Regions from separate parts of the Homo sapiens genome. Here region 1 is linked to region 2. Evidence: fine-mapped expression QTL. Tissue or cell type: tibial nerve. Region 2 holds a variant in brackets; the other region holds the start of a gene. All regions are shown on one strand. Distances are from middle to middle.

What was found. PIP is the estimated chance that this variant, and not a neighbour inherited with it, causes the effect. A credible set is the group of variants that fine-mapping cannot tell apart.
Region 1: it holds the start of ATP2B2, and the variant in region 2 is the best candidate, but not a certain one, in a credible set for the expression of ATP2B2 in tibial nerve (GTEx, PIP 0.67).

Annotation. Positions count from the first base shown.
Region 1 is chr3:10,503,501-10,508,721 of GRCh38, forward strand. ATP2B2 (ATPase plasma membrane Ca2+ transporting 2) reads right to left here and starts at 2,086. Exons shown (of 23, transcript NM_001001331.4): 1 at 1,965-2,086. RefSeq lists enhancers at 742-1,408, 1,409-2,075.
Region 2 is chr3:10,551,165-10,556,385 of GRCh38, forward strand. It overlaps a transcript of ATP2B2 not described here. Among named protein-coding and RNA genes, the nearest start is that of ATP2B2-IT1, 17 kb to the right of the region's middle. RefSeq lists a silencer at 2,521-2,815. The variant A/G (reference allele first, on the strand shown) is at 2,716.

The sequences.
Region 1 (5,221 bases), 48 kb before region 2:
TCCAGTATCCCTCTGTCCTCATCGGAAGTCCCTTAAGGGGCAAGCTCTCCCTAGCACCCACAGAGCCACCTTGCCTCCTGGAAGCTGAGGGGGCGGGTGTGTGCACGCAGCATCCGCAGAGGTGCTGCATCTGTGTGCCTGTGGCCGTCTTCTTATGTGTGCAACTGACATTCACCTGTGGGCACATTCCAGCATGCCATGTGCCTGCCAATGCACGGGCAGGCACGCAGATGGCATTCAGAGCCCCACATGTGTGTGCCTGTTGTTTTCACACCTGAGCCAGCCCTCAGGTGGGTACACACATTTCTGGCTGTTGCAGGGCACTGTGTGCAGCCTACTGCTTTCCCGTGTTAGTGCTACATGCATGTGTGGGCAAGCTGCATGCACAGGTGTGTATGTGTGTACTGCATTCGTGTGTGTGCTGTGTTTTGCACGTGAGCATGTGGTGTTCAGGAACGTGGGTTGTATTTACAGGTGCTGGGGTGTGGGCATGGGCATTCCATATGTGTATATATGATTTGGACATATATGACGCACTACTTATGGGTACTATATTTGTATCTGTGCATATGTGTGAATTTGTGGGCATGCATATGCCCTGATGTGAATGGGACTAGGGTGTGAAGGTGGCTAAATAATGGTGGCCATCAGCATCTTTCCTGGACCCCCAACCCCCCACAGGACTCCCCAGAGCTGCAGCCCCTTCTTTGCCACTGCTCCTTCAACGAAGTTAACAGGCGGAGGCCCCCAAGGCCTGCGCTCCAAGCCCCCTCCTACTGCACACGTCAAAGGAGAATTTCTCCGGATGGCGCCCGCTGATCCTGGAAATACCCCAAACGTCAGCTCTGCCTCCTCCCAGCGATTCGGAGAGCAATGCAGGAGAGGAGGGAGCCCCTTCCACGCTGGGCTCAGGGCATGCAGCGTCGCACTAAGACCCTCTGCCGGCTGGTCGGGCTTGCCTGCTCACTTACCCTTCTGAAGGTCGAGCCAGGCTGGGCCTCTGCATGGAGGGCCCGAGACCCCCAGGGCCCTTGCCTGATTGGGGCAGGCCAGTCCAGAGCACCCCCCCAACCCCCAACCCCCAACCTGGGTGAGCAGAGGACAGCCGTGGTGTGGAATAGCTACTTGGCTAGAAAGGGGTTGCTGCTGTCCGCAACCCACCCTCAGGGAGTCCTGAGGCCCCCTGCTGCATTTTCCCATCCTGACCCTGCAGGGGGCAGGGAGGAGCCTCAGGTGCCCTATCCCTCAGCTGGAGACCACTGAGGCTGGCCTAGGAAGTGGGCTTCTGGGCAGAGGGTGCCGACTCCACCACCCAGCATGACTGCTGCAAAATGGCCTGGCCACCCGTTCCTGCCACCCTCCTGGCCATGGAGGGGACCCAGGAACACGTCCCTGCCACCACATGACCCGGCTGGCCTGACCCAATGAGTCCCAGCACACAGCTGCCCACCCCACCAAAGGGACGCTTCACAGGGGCCTCCTCCTGCCTCTTTCCTGGGACTCTGACCAGGGTGGGCAACGGGCACCCTCCAGTCCTCTTGGTCTCCCTGGGACCGGCTCAGAGAGAAGAGAACCTTGTCCCCTGCCACCAGCTTGCTGGCCCTTGCATAACATCCTTAGGGGGCATTTGCAGTCCAGAGGCTGCCGGAATCTACCTGAGACCCTGGGCATCCGCTTGTCCGAGGCCCCCCTGTCCTAGTCCCCAGCATCCAGCCGTCCCCCACAACACGCGGACCCTCACACTAGTGTCTCCCTCAGCGGCGGCTCCCAGTGCAGCCTCGGCTGCTGCCAGATAAACAAGCCCTGCTCCCACCCCCCCTCCACGCTGCCACCGCCACCACCATCAGCACTGAGAAAAATCAAATGAAATGAAACAAAATAAAATGGGTGAGGGAGGAAGGGGAGAGTGGAGTGGGGCGCTTTTTATTTTTTATTTTCTCATGCTGGGGGATGCCGGTACTTACTTGGCTATGAAAATCACCACCAATCCTGCACGGTTTCCCGGCGGGCAGCCCCGTAATCGCGGTGCGGCAGCTGGTGCCGCGGCTGAGCCCAGCCAGCGTGCCCGGGCCCCTCTGCAGACTGTACCATCCTGCCCGAGCGGGTGGGGGGCGGGGGGCGGAGGCGCCGGCGCCGGTTCTAGGAGAGCATCTCGCCGGCAAAATGCAATCTCGGGGGAGGCAGAGGCCGCCCCTGCCGCTGCCGGAGGCTGGGGGATGGGGGCGGGAGGAGGGAGGGAGGGAGGGACACAGGGAGGGCCGGTTCTGGAGGGGGCACGGGGGAGGAGAGTGGGGGGCGGGGGGGGTGTGTGGACCGAACCACCACGCTGTTGTTTGCGGTTTTAATTCCTCCCGTGGGATCATGAGGAACCGAAGCTGGCAGAGTCCCAGGAATATGCCCGCTCCCCAGAAGCAGGAGGGAATGTCAAGGGCACGGAGAGGGTAGGGCTGGGCTGTGCTGGAGGGAAGGGGGTCCTGAGAGTGGTGGTGGGGAGAACGGGAGCAGAGAGGGGAGGATTTTGCTCAAATGGCCCCAAGTCGTCCCTTGCTTTCTGGGGGACTTATTTGGTCAGGGGCTCTGGCCCCCCTCTTTGCAGTCAAGGCACCCCCAGACCTGGGGGGCAAAGGGGCAAAGGTCGCAAATGGGGAGAAGTCGACTCAACACATTTTAAACACATCTGTGTTTCCAGGGCCAGTGGAGCTGAGCCCGCAGCAGCTCTCTGCTGCCCTGAAGCGCTACCCCTGCGACCCGCCCTGCCTGTGTGCGACCCCACCTGCCCTCGGGGGGGTGTGGTGGTGGGGGCTGGCTTGGCAGAAGGGCCTGCCTCAAGAAGGTGCCCACCAGCAGGGGTGTCTGCATGTCTGTACACCCACCTAATCTTCAGGACATCTATGATGAGTTGCAGGCCGACTGTGGGCTGACTGACACTTCCACGGGAACCCAGGGACCCCGGGTGAGGAGTCGGTAGGGTTGGAAGCCCCTAGCCAGCTGCTCACCTCTTCCTGCCTAATCTCTGCCAGACTTGCTGCTCTTTCAACTCCAGATGGGTGGGAGGAGAGCCCTAAGAGCAAGGTTAGGAGGTCACCGGGGGCGAGGGGCTTCTCTAGAATTCTGAAGCCTTGGCCTCCACTGCCCTGCCCCCTCCAGGAGGGGTACCCTGCTTGGAGGGAGGGCACTGAAGGTGGAAGGACCTTCAGGACCAGTGTCTCAGGGCACCTGTCAGGGTGGAGGGGTGCATGGGGGACAGGGGCAGGGCTGGAGGCGGCCCCGGGAGGCAGTTCCAGGCAGAAGCTGCCTCTTTCCCCTGCCCCCACCTCCTGCCCACCTCTGAGCTGCCCGCCCGAGCGTCCCGAGCTGCCGCTCCATCCCTGGGCTGGCACAGAATACCAATTTGTCTCGTTAAGCTGAAAGTCTGCACTGCACCAAAATCAGAACCCGGCCGTGCAGAGGGGCCACGGGAGGGAGACAGTTGGGAGCGCCTGAGGTGGGTCTCCCACCAGTAGGCCATGCTGAGACCTCCTTGCTCCTCAGCCCCCAGCCCCATGGAAGGGTGCCCACCTGCCCCTTAGCCCGCAGGGTGGCCTCAACGCAGGGAGGATGCTGCGAAGCTACGATGTCAAGGGCCGGGTGGTCATTCAAGGCCTTGGCCTCCACTGGGGCAAGGGTGTGAGTCAGAGGCCAGGCAAGGCTCCCTGCTGGGGTTCTGACAGAGCAGCCCAGGACACCCCTCAGGGAGGCTCTCGACCCCACACCAATAGCCCAAGACTGGGGGCTTCCAAAGCAGCCTCATCTCTGCTTCATCTTGCGGGTGCAGATGGGAACTCTACCCCTCTTAGGGGTGTAGTTGGGGGGATTCCACTGGCCACCCCTCTAGGTGGTCTTCTAAGTCAGCAGTCCCTAGTCAGCTCCACCCCAGGGACCAGGGCCAAGCATCTGCCCTTCCCCAAGGCCCACAGGCTCTCCGTTCCCCAAAACAGGCCCGTGTAAAGCTGTTCCGAGATGTTGGAGCGAGGGTGGGCAAAGACGGGCAGAGGCGGAAAGGCCCATTGCACCTCCCATCTGTTGCCAGCCTACATGTCTGTGCCAGGAATCCCACCATTATTACTTCAACATCTTTGGCGGTAAACTGCTTTCCCTGCTTACAAAATAGCCCGAGAAGCAGCCTGTTATGAGCCACACATTTCAACAATCACACTGCCTTCTGTGTCCGGCACACTTTACAGTTTGTAAAGGCCACCTACAAAACAGTAAATCATTTGATCCTCCCAACTACCTCTGGGGTGGCTGCCGTGAGCACCCAAGGTACAGATGGGGAAGCTCTGTGTAGTTCAGGGGGATGTGGTGGCCAGGGCAAGGTGGCACAACCAGTAAAGAGTAGACCAAACTTGTGACGGAGGCCTCTGGACTCCAAGCCCAGGGCTGCCTGCATGCGCAGGCCATCATGAGTGTGGGCTCACTGGGAGCCCTGACACTCGTCCGCTCCCAAGTCTTGAGTCTTACCTTCCCGGTGGTCCCTGTCTGAGACGGGCTGGGCTCTCACCAACGCACACTAGCAGCCAAACTCTCAGGCAGTTGTGGATTTTGGTTTTCAGACCCTAAGACTAGAACTGCCACCTGGCCGAGTTCCCATCTCCTTGACATTCCAGATCCCATGTCTTTCAGCGCCTGCATCCACCCCGCAGTGACTGGATGCCCCTATCTCCTGAGGCAGTGCAAATATTGAACAGCAAAGTTTGAAGGTTTTTCCTTGTGGGTATACCCCAGTTCTAGGCCCACCCTACTCATTCTTCGAAGTCCAACTCAAATTCTGCTTCCCCAGACAGTCCTTCCTGATTCCACCAACTGAGTTGGTTCATGCCTCTGTTCTACCTCTGACCACACTGTATTGTGATGGTCTACACGTCTGTCTCCCTCACTGGGCTGTGACCACATCAGACATGTCTCCAGCATTCCAGGTCTCAGGTCCCAGCATGTGTTAGATGGTGCAGTAAAGGCTTGAATGAGTCTGCTGGACCCTTGAGAACTCCTATCCAATTCTCCCATTTTACAGTTCAGCAAACCGAAGCCTCAAGAAAAAGATCAGGGCTTGCCTAAGGTCATTCTTGAGGGTGGAATCTGGCTGCAGACATCTGTCCCTTGCCCCGTCCCCTTTGCCTTCTCTTCCTGCAGCAGATACACCTGGGTCATCTGGCCTGGCCTTCCAGGATGTGTTGGGGGGCAG
Region 2 (5,221 bases):
TACTGCCCCCTTCTCCCAACACATAGCCTCCTGGAGCTCAGCTCCTATTCTTAAGGAGCTCATGGGACAGTTAGAGTACCTGATGGAGGAGTGATCAGTGAATTCAGTGGGGGAAAGATGAGAGACGCAGCCTGCAGTGAAGCAGGTAGTATGGCTTTAGGACCTGGCAAGGCAGTGGTGAATGGACGTGCCGATTATCAAGCCCACCATGGGCACAGATGGGGCCAAAGCGGCCAAGCTCAACGTCTCAGATGCGGATCTGTGATCACTGTCAGTGCTACTTGCAAGATACAATCCCTGATGCAGTTCCTTCCTCTGTAACACCCCACTAACACGCATGCATATTCCACAGCCCTGCTTTGGCAATGCAAAGTTTTGTATAAAGAAATATTTTGCTGTAAACATATTTCTATTCTAGGCTAACTCAGATTTAGAGATAGATTTTTCTTTCCTTTTAAGAAATCAAGAGTTCAAACCTTCAGCCCGGCAACTGTACACAATTGCTCACAATTATGTTTCATTCAAACAAGAACACAATGTATCAATCATATTTACCTGTTTTGGTCTGTCTCCAATTCCAAAAGCTACCTTGGTCTGCCAGTAAAGGGGAGTCACATCTGGGAATGTCCTGGCCATGTGACCCCAAGCATGTCTCACTTTCCCCATCTGTTGAAAAGGGGACTCTAGCTTCTTCCTGGGCTGTGGGAAGCAGGACATGAAGTCTAGGCTGGGCCAGCTCCCTAGGGCCCTCAGCAAATGGAAGTTGCGAACATTAACGCTGCTTTTGAACAATGCCAAGGTTGCATAAGAAATGTAGCCATGCCTATCATGGGGCTGGGTTTGGGCTTTCTGTAACACTGATTCCGAACAATGTCAAAAGTTGCATAAGGAACCTCACTGTGCCTATCCTGGGGCCCAGTTTTGGCTTTCTAGAGCTCGCCTGTGGCAGCATTTCTGCAGCCGGAGAGGGAACACCCTTCCCACGGCCGCCGCCTCGGTGCCGGTTGGTGACTCATAGCACTGGCGAGGGGCGTGGGCGGGAAACCACATAGGCATCACCATGGCATCTGACAGATTTGCCCCTGTGGAGCTACTCTGTAAAGAAAAGGGGAAGAGGGGGCCCTTCTCCTCCTGCAAGGTGAGTGGGGCACAGAGGGAACAGCTTTCGTCAGCCGAACCCCCTTGCTGCAACGTGGCTGGAAGCCAACCTTAGAGAAGGTGGCAGCGTCCTGCCTTCCGCCCAAAGTGAGTGCTGGCCTGGCTCCTGGGGTGAGGGAAAAATCCCATCTTGTGGGTGCTGCCCTCCATAGCTCCCTCTCACACAAACACGTTCAAAGTCTTCTCACATACTTAACATCAGAAAGGCAATCCAGAACCTCCCATTTGTGAGCAACAGCTATGTGCTGGGTTGGCTCCCCTCAGCACTGCTTTTATGTTATTTGCTTCCTTCCATCCTCAGGATGACTTGTTCTTATCTCCTCTTACAAATGAAGAAACTGAGGCTAGAAGTTGCCCGAGGCCACAGTGCTGCCCTGAGGCAGAGCTGGGGTTCCAACCAAGATGTGTTCCCTGTGCTCAAAAATGGGTCAGGAAATTTACAAATGGGTGTCTGTGGGCATGTGAGAAGCAGGTGAACTGGAGAACATCCAGGAAGTGCAACTGCTGAGGCCACAGACAGCTCAGGGCAGAAACACTCATTTTAGGCAGCTGTCACTTTCCAAAGGACTTTCTATGTGCTGTCTCATTTACTTTCCATAACAGTTCTATGAAGTGGGAGCTAACATCTCCATTTCGAAGGCAAGGAGGCAGAGATTGAATTGCTCCTCAAGGGCATCCAACTGCTCTGTCCTCTATGGCCTCCAGCCTCCAGTTCCCCATCTGTGCAATGGGAATATATTAAAATCACACCTTCAGATGATGTCAGGGTTAAATGAGGGAACATAACAGAAATGCTTTAGAAACTGCAAAATGCCACCGGAATTCTATGGAGTATTATTATTTACTAAAATAGCTTAGTGAAGACAACACAAATAAGTCTGAGAATTGCAAGGTTCTAGATTCAGACCTAGATTTCTGCAGAGTGTTTAAGCGGTGTTCTTTCCCGGACTGGAAGCTCCTGAAAGCAGGGACCACGTCTGGTTTGCCTCAGTTTCCTCAGCGCCCTGTTCCATGCCTGACACAGAGAGGGACCTTGAAAAAGCTAGGTGAAACTATTCAGGATTAATTCAGACTGGGAAAGAGGGTGGAGGGGAAGAACAATGGGATTGAGGGCTGGAAGTGGCCTTTTAGAGGTGGGTGACCAGAAGGTTGATGTTCCAACTCTTGAGAATGAAAACGCCTCTTTTAATAGTCTTGATAAAATGGAACTGTTCTGGGCCAGCAGGGACATACAGTCATACTACTTAAATATTTAGTACTTATTTAGTCTGATCCCCATGTTGTGGGGGAAACTGAGGCCCTCAGAGGATTGCAGAGCTGGGGGGGAAACCCAGGACTCCCTGCCCCTCCATAGGCCTGCTCTTGGAAGAGCCAGAGCAGCAGCTCGGAGTGGGTGGAGCTTGCTTTTAGTGCCTGCAGCTCTCTGGAAGGAACTGGGTGTTATCGAGATAATCCAAAGTTTCTGTTGGGTAAATATCAACACTTCTGGGCCCGTTACTAAGGGCCTGGGTGGTTGCTAAGCGGCCCTATGACCTCATGAGGGGGCCATTGTTTAGC[A/G]CTCAATAGGCATCCTTGAGTGACATCCCCCAGCTCCCAAATCCCAGGGGCCCCTGGGGTTTTGTGAAAAGAAGCAAGAGATTATAATGAGCAGGAGCGGTACACAGACCCACGTTTGTTTTCTGGGGGTCTAGTGGGGCGGGGGTGGGGGCTGCAGCTTTTCAGAACAAGGCATAGGAAGGCATGAGGGCCCGGTGAGAGGCTGCCAGCTGCCATTGCTGGCAATAGAAATACCCCAGGAATAAAGAATTAACCCCATGTATGGCGCTTGACCCTTTGTAACCCACCTGAACACTCATCCTCTCACTTTGTTTTCAAAGCAGCCACACCATTTCACAGAAGAGAAAAAACTGGGTCCAAAAAGGGGAGACAGCTTGCCCAAGGCCTCTCAGAAATGTCTCAGTTTCCAGGTGTGGAAGGCAGAATAATGGCTGCACAAAGACACCCACATCCAAACCCCCAGAGCCTGTGAATATGTCAGCTTATGGCAAAGGGAAATGAGGGTGCAGATGGAGTGAAGGTGTCTCACCGCTGACTTTAAGACAGGGGAGATCACCCTGGATGATCTGGGTGGGCCAATGGAATACAAGGACCTTTAAAAGTGGAAAAGGGAGGCAGAAGATTCAGTGTCTGTGAATCAAGGAAATAGGCAGCCTCTAGAAGATGGAAAAGGCCCAGAGACAGATTCTTCTCCCCCGCAGCCTCCAGAAGGAATGTGGCTCTGCCTCGATTTCAGCCCGGTAGAGCTGTGTCAGACTTCTGACTACAGAACTGTCAGCTGATCAATTTTAAATCCCCTGGTCTATGGTTTTTTGTTACAGCAGCAATAGTAAGCTAATACACCACACTTAGAAATCTGCAATGCCTAAGCCAGAAGCAGGGCCTTGAAGATCACATTTAGCTTTTTGGAGTTCAGAAAACAGAAGGCCCAGGGGAATAAAATGATTTACTCAAGGTCCCAAAGCAAGTAACACAAACAGTGACAGGCACCTCTGGGTGTGGGTCAGACCTTGTTGAGGCTACTGAGGCCACCTGCCAGGGAGTTGGAACTTCTAGGCCCCTTCCCTGCCATTCTCTGCCAGCTGGCCTGATCAGGACCCCAGACCCCAAACCTATCCCCTCTGAACCTTTCTTGGGCACAGGCAGGTCAGAGGCCCATTATGTGACAGGCAGGAGGGTACTCTCCTCCTTTTCGCCCCTGCCAAGCACAGGCAGCCCAAAGCCTATGGCCTCAGTGCCTTTCTTTGAAAATGGGAATAGCACCTTCCACATCAAACGGCAAGGATAAAATGTGAGCACACAGTAGGTGCTCAATGCCTGCTCTTAGATTTCTCTCAGCCAGGCCCAGGCCCTGCTCTGTGTTTCACAGCAACTGGCTGTTTCCTCTCAGCCTTCTTTGGAATCTGAGGGCTTCATTCCCAGAAGGGCATTATCTCTGCCCAGCACACAGGAGTACAATGATTGCCTGTTGAATGGACCACAGGATTAACACCTATTATGCTTCTGTCTCCTCCCCTTCACCTAGAAAACTCCTATGTATCTGTCAAGGTCCAGAGCAAATGCTGCCTCCTCCGGGAAGCCTTCCCTGACCTCCCTGTGCAAGGTCACATTCATCTCTTTGTGCTGGGCTTCTGGCTTCCTTGTGGCACCTTGATGTTGGTGCTAAGGGCTCCAGCCATGGTGGCCAACACATCTGGGCTCCAATGCTCCAACACATCTCTGGCCCTGACAGAGTGATTCTTGACTAGTTATGCCTCTTCTCTGAGCTTTGTCTCTTCCCCTGTTGAATGGGAGGAATAGCAGCACCTCCATTGTGGGGCTGGTGGGGAGAAGCCCATAAGATGCTGTGTGGGAAGGGTTCCTTACAGGGTCCAGAGTGAGCATGCAGCAAAAGGCAGTGGCTGTTTTCACTAGAATGGCTGCTATCATCCCAGATGCCTGCATAGCTGGCCTGATTAGGACCCCAGAGCCCAGATCCCACCTTCTCTGTGGCTTTCTTTGTGAGAGACAGGTCAGAAGCCCTCTTATTTTATTTTGGAGATGGAGTCTTGCTCTGTCACCCAGGCTGGAGTGCAGTGGCACAATCTTGGCTCACTGCAACCTCTGCCTCCCGGGTTCAAGCAATTCTCTTGCCTCAGCCTCCTGAGTAGCTGGGATTACAGGCACCCACCACCACGCTTGGCTAACTTTTGTATTTTTAGTAGAGACGAGGGTTTCACCATGTTGACCAGGCTGGTCTCAAACTCCGGACCTGAAGTGATCTGCCCTCCTTGGCCTCCCAAAGTGCTGGGATTATAGGCGTGAGCCACTGTGCTTGGCCAGAAGCCCATTTTATGACAGGCAGTGCTCACGGAAAACCCAGGTTCTCCAGGCCAGGGATATGTCTGATTTGTCTATGTGACTGCTCTCAAATTTTTACTGAGCACCTAGTAGGTATTAGGCTCTCCACTAGCACTGGGGGGACAAGGGTGAACAAGGTCTCTGCTCCCTCGAGCTGTCTTTCTAG